Regions from separate parts of the Homo sapiens genome. Here region 1 is linked to region 2. Evidence: fine-mapped expression QTL. A gene starts in region 2. The other region holds a variant in brackets. All regions are shown on one strand. Distances are from middle to middle.

The links. PIP is the estimated chance that this variant, and not a neighbour inherited with it, causes the effect. A credible set is the group of variants that fine-mapping cannot tell apart.
Region 1: its variant is the best candidate, but not a certain one, in a credible set for the expression of RGS17 in blood mononuclear cells (TOPMed, PIP 0.67).

Annotation. Positions count from the first base shown.
Region 1 is chr6:153,101,091-153,104,001 of GRCh38, forward strand. The region is part of intron 1 of RGS17 (regulator of G protein signaling 17); the gene reads right to left. Among named protein-coding and RNA genes, the nearest start is that of RGS17, 29 kb to the right of the region's middle. The variant G/C (reference allele first, on the strand shown) is at 1,696.
Region 2 is chr6:153,129,733-153,132,643 of GRCh38, forward strand. It overlaps RGS17 (regulator of G protein signaling 17), which reads right to left and starts at 1,550. Exons shown (of 5, transcript NM_012419.5): 1 at 1,392-1,550. RefSeq lists a silencer at 1,432-1,481.

The DNA of each region.
Region 1 (2,911 bases), 29 kb before region 2:
ATGAAATCTGAGTTTTGAAAAATTTAAGTAATTTGTCCATGTTCCAAGCAACGGAATAAAAATTTGAACCTAGTGTGTTAGATTTCAAAGACTATGAATACTCTATACAGTTGACCCTTGAACAACACGGATTTGAACTGCGGAGTCCACTTATACACAGTTTTATTTTTTTCAACCAAAAGTGACCTGCAAGTACAGTATTCACAGGATGCAAAACTGCATAGTATAAGAAGCACTGACTTTTCCCATATGTGGGTTTTGCAGGGCCAACTGGGCACTTGAGTGTACATGGATGTGGTTATCCTCGGGTGGTCATGGAACCAATCCGCCATGGAGGCCAAGGGAAGACTGCATCTATTAGTGATCATATTGTATGCTACCGATTTAAAAGTGATGGCAGATGTCATTTCTATATACGGAAGAATTCCTTCATAAAATGGAACTGGAGACTGGTAGGGTTGGCCTTAGCAGTTAACAGTATATGCTACTGTTGGTGACTACATATGTTATGTGGTGATATGGTTTGGCTCTGCGTCCCCACCCAAGTCTCATCTTGAACAGTAATCCCCACATGTTGAGGGAGGGGTCTGGTGGGAGGTGACTGAATCATGGGGGCAGACTTCCTCCTTGCTGTTCTTGTGATAGTGAGTGAGTTCTCGTAAGATCTGGTTGTTTGAAAGTATGTGGTACTTCCCCCTTCACTCTCTCTCTCTCTCTCCTGCCACCAAAAGAAGACATGCCTTGTTTCCCCGTCACCTTCTGCCATGATTATAAGTTTTCCTGAGACCCCCAAGTCATGCTTCCTGTTAAGTCTGCAGAACTGTGAGTCAACTAAACATTTCCTTGATAAATTACCTAATCTCAGGTAGTTCTTTATAGCAGTGTGAAAATGGACTAATACAGGTGGTTATGAATTGGTACCTACCAACAAGGTATCAAATCCATTGTTTGGCATTTCTGCCATCAATGCAACGATCTGCCTTTGTACTTGAAGGCATTTTGCTTCTGCACAGTCTTCTATTAAGGAAAATGATAAGCCTTATCACTTAACTCAGTGCTAACAGTTGGACCCCAGCTGATGCTCTGAGAGAGTCTGATGGGACACCAGCAAGGAGGACAGGAAATGGAACATGACAGAGACACACTTTGTCTCTAGTTTTTCTCTAGGGGTAAAACAGGCAAAATTAACACATCTTACCTGTCAAGTAAAATTACAAGAATAACATGTATGTATGTAAGTGAACCTGTGTGAAAATTCAGACAGACTAGTTCTAGAGTTGTCACATTCTTACCAATGTGATTTGGACTATGCAGGAACAAACCAATCAATTATACTGGAACTCTATATATTGATACATATCTTTACTAGTAAAACAAACAGGGTCTGATATGGTTTGGCTCTGTGTCCCACTCAAATCTCATCTCGTGTTGAGGGAGGGACCTGGTGAGAGGTGATTGGATCATGGGGGCAGCTTCCCCCATGCCGTTCTCATGATAGTGAGTGAGTAACGCTGTCAATGTCACAGAGATGGTTCCTTAGAGTTTCTCCAGGCCCCTCTCTACATGTGGAGGAATCTAATCACAGTTGTCAACTGAGGCCTGGCCTATGTGGGCAGATCCTCGAATGTTTTTTCTTTTCTGAATATTACTTTCTTTCAAATGCTAATAAGGGTTAGGCCCAAAGCATTTTGTTGT[G/C]CCCTTCAAATAAAGAAAAACTACAATGCAAACATTAGGCATTCCATGTTCATTGTGTATGTGTCTTGTTTTATGCATTCTATCTTAAAATATTTATTTTTAGTCACTGCCCTGATACTCAGTGGCTGGCAGTTGGTAGACTCTCAGCCATAACTGCTGAATGAATAAAATGAATTCTACAACAAGCTTTTGCTATTGAAAAGCATTATGGTGGTATATTACATCCATCTCAGAATTTTTATAGCTCAGTGAATAAAGAATATGGCTAATGGGTGTAGAATTTCTTACAATAACCCAGACAGCACTCTTCAGTTATTCTTTTCCAATTTCGTTAGCTGAAAACCAGGGACAATACAATAAATCACAAGATATACAGGAGGATCTAACATTTGAGTAATGACCTGCTGCTGGACTGTAACACAGCATTAGGAGTTTCAGTTTAATCAAACAGTGGTTAAGGAATAATGGGCTGAGATGTTTCATATCTTTATGATGACATCTCTAGAAGTAACTTTTTATTCCCTTTGTGTTCATAATTTATTTAATATATGCCATAATTATTACCACTGATACGATAGTTATATTTCCGTGACCTTCAGCAGAAGGCGGGGTGGAGGATGCTGTTGTGAGCTGTTGGCTTCTGTCACCGGCTCCTCCAGGACAGCAGAGCCACACTTCCTCTCAAGTGCTGCTACCACCCTTTTCTCCTAGCAACCATATTATGTTAAAGTGCAGTTGCTGAGGTTGCCAGGATATTCGTCTATTCTTGTCCTCCATGATCAAACCAAAGGCAAGAGAAAGTGTAAACCAAACTGAGGCAAACACACAGGTAGAGAGACCCCGAAAAACCAAATGCCAGCCTATTCTTGAGAAGAAATAAATTGAGCAAATTATTCTGTTGTTAATGCTTTAAAAATGTATCTTATCTTTTCTTTTCTTTTGGGTAAAATCAGGAAACAAATTTTAAAGACAATCCACAAAAGAATGGCTATTAAACGTTTTAAGACAAAACCACATTATCATTAGTCAGTAGAAGCTACTTTTTCCCAATAGAGGAAGAGAGGTAAACATCTTAAAATTGTCAGAGTGACCTGGAAGATTCTAAACCATAATTACCATCCAGCTTCACATATAAAAGCTTTGAAGAGGATACCACATCTTATTGAACCAAAGATATCATTGATTGTAAAATGTGTACTGATTTCTGGAATGTGAA
Region 2 (2,911 bases):
AAGAAAGAAATAACTCTGAAGAGTGTGAAGTTCTCCAGACAAATCTTATAGTGAATCTTTTGAAAGAAGCATTTATGGAAAGGTCAGGGGAGGTCAGGAGAGTTATGCCAGGAGCCAGGGTCAATCGTCCCCGGGCGACAGGGGTTCTCCCACGTGAACCGACGTCCCGGGCTCCGGGCGAGGCGCAGGGCTCAGGGCGCAGGGCGGGTCCCGTACGCAGGGCGGGCGCGCGGGCATCTTTGTGGCCAGGCGACCCCGGCTCGCTCTCCCGGAGCCCAGGGACTCCCGAGGCTGGCGCGGGCTGCCCGCGACAAGGTGCCAGCAGCCTCGGGCTCGCGAGGAGCAGCTCCCACCCGCGGCTTCCGAGTCCAGCTCTGTCCCTCCGCCATCCCCTAGTCCTCCGGCATTTATTCAGGGAGACAGGGAGGCAGAGAGAAGAGGAGAAAGCGGCCGTGTCTGCACCCAGCCTCTGCCGCAGCACTCGATGAGGGACAGCAGGGAGGCTGGCGGGGAGGCAGAGATTAAACTATGATTCCATCGATCACGGAAAGACCACCATCACCTACAGCAAAGGAGGCTCCGATGCGCCCACCCGGGCAGCGACTCGCGGTTGGTGGGCGTTCCTCGTCCTCGCCCCCTCGGTGGCTGTGGAATCCACCCCGCGCCGCACACGCCAGGACTCCCTTTCCTTTGACTAAGGGGAGGGGAAGGAACAAAAGAGACCCCCCACCCCCTATACATACATACACATACACACACACACACACACACACACACCCCTCCGGTATTTTACTGCTGGTCAAAGGATTCATTTTCGCAACCTCTTCTTCGAACACCTTCCCCACCTGAGCAGTGCATTTTCCCAAAGGTAAAGAGAGATAAGGGAGGAAACACAGCACCCAAGGTGATCAGTCGATTGGACACTGTTGATGGCACATTCTCCTCGTTCCCAACCAACCGCACAAAACCCGCAACACCTCGCGTCCCCGCGGGGTCTCCCGCGCCCCTGGCCCGGCCCTCCCGGCCGCCCCCAGCAGGCGCCCCGCTCTCCGCGGGAACTCTGGGACCTGGCCGAGCGTTCCCCGGCGGGCAGGACACTCGCCCGGTTCCCTGCAGCAGCTGAGGGCGGCGAGCGGACCGCGTCCAGGCAGCGACGCGGGATTCAACTTCCCGGACCCGCGGCGCGGCCCCCGCTCCCGCTCAGGGCGCCGCGGCCACAGCTGAGACCCCAGCGCCGCGCAGCCGCCCCCGCCGGGGCATGGGCGGTCGCGCTCTCCGCCCCCTCCTTCCTTCACCTCCCCCCTACCTTGAAAAAAATCCATCCATTGGTGCAAAGCAGACATTTTGATGTCATTTACTTAGCACCGCTTGTTTTGGAGGCAGCGTCTTACCCGGTCGCCTGGAGGTGTGGGCAGCGCGCCGATGGGTCCGGGGGAGCGGGGCTGGGCGGCTCGGTCCTCTAGCGGAGCCGGTTTGCTGCCATCCGCCCAACTTCAGCACCCAGCGGGCGAGGAGAGAGGGAGAGCGGCGAGGATGCAGAGGAGGGGGAGGGGGAGGAGGGAGCGGTGGGCGGGGAGGGAGCGAGAGCCGCTCGGCAGCGCGCATGCGCCTCGCGGGCCGGCGCAGCCCCTCGCCCGGCGCGGCCGGAGGGGCAGCTTCCCAGCCCCTGCGCGCGGCCGCGAGAGTCCCGGCCCCGCCCCCTCCCCGGGCGGCCCCCGGCCCCGCCCGACCTCGCGCGCTCGCCTGGGCGCGGCGCCCACCGTGCGGAGGGGCTCGGCCGGGACTCTCGGCTTCGGTGACGCCCGTCCGGAGCTTCGCGGGAGGCCCGGAGTCCCGAGAGCTTCCCTGGGTGACAGCGGCTCTCCGCCCGGGCCCCTGCAACTCCACTCGCCCGTAGCCCGCGCGCTGCTGTCCTGGGCTGCGCGGGAGCCTTGCACCCAGGAGCCGGCCTGCCAGGCACAGCAGCCTGCCTGCTCCGGGTCCCGGAGGAAGCATTCCCTGCGTGGGGGTTCAAGGAAGTGTGAAGTTAAGCAAGTTTTGCTTCCCGAAGGACTTTATGAAGCGTCCTTTACTTTATTGACTTCCTCGCCCAGAAAGAGGACCTTTTCTCCTAAGAATCAGTGCAGGTGCTCTCTGGCCTAGCCCATGCCAGCTGCCTCAGGCGCCCGGACCACTCGCTGGAGCAGAGTTTTGAGTGAGAAAAGCCGATGACAAGGCAAGAGTGGAGAATTATTAACGGAGGTGCTGATGCTTGGGGCCTAGAGCATCCTTAGGGGACAGCTTGGTAGTTACCAGGTCTGATAATCGTTCTGTGCCCAAGTGGAGCCCAGCTTGGTAGGGAAGGAGCTTGGGATACTTAATGCAACCCGAGCGCTAGATTGCATCTCCAATGATTAGACTAAAGTGTTTGTGCGGAGGAAGTGGAGAAGCAGTGTCTTGCTCTTCAGATACCACATCTGTGGGAAGAGGAGGGAGTTCCTGCAGGAGTGAATGGGCTTTTTTTTCTTACACCTAATTAAAACAGATTACTTGTAAATCTGTGTGAGTTCCCCTTCCTTGTGTGTTCATGTAAGCAAGCGTTGTGTTATTTCAGCCTACTGAACTCTCCTGTGCCTCCATCCTCATAGACTCACGGGTACTTGGGTTAAATATGTCTCAGGGCCTCCTCCAGGGCCTCCCATGGCTTTGAGTACTAGTGCTCTTCAAAGTGTCTTCATTTTTGTTGGATTTCACAGAAGTATTTGTCTTTGTCTTCCAGGCTGCTATAACAAAATACCATAGACTGGATGGCTTATAAACAACAGAAACTGATTTCTTACAGTTCTGGAGACTGGGAAGTCCAAGATCAAGATGTAGGCAGATACCTTATTTGGTGAGGGCCCAATTCCGAGCTCATGAACTGCTGACTCCT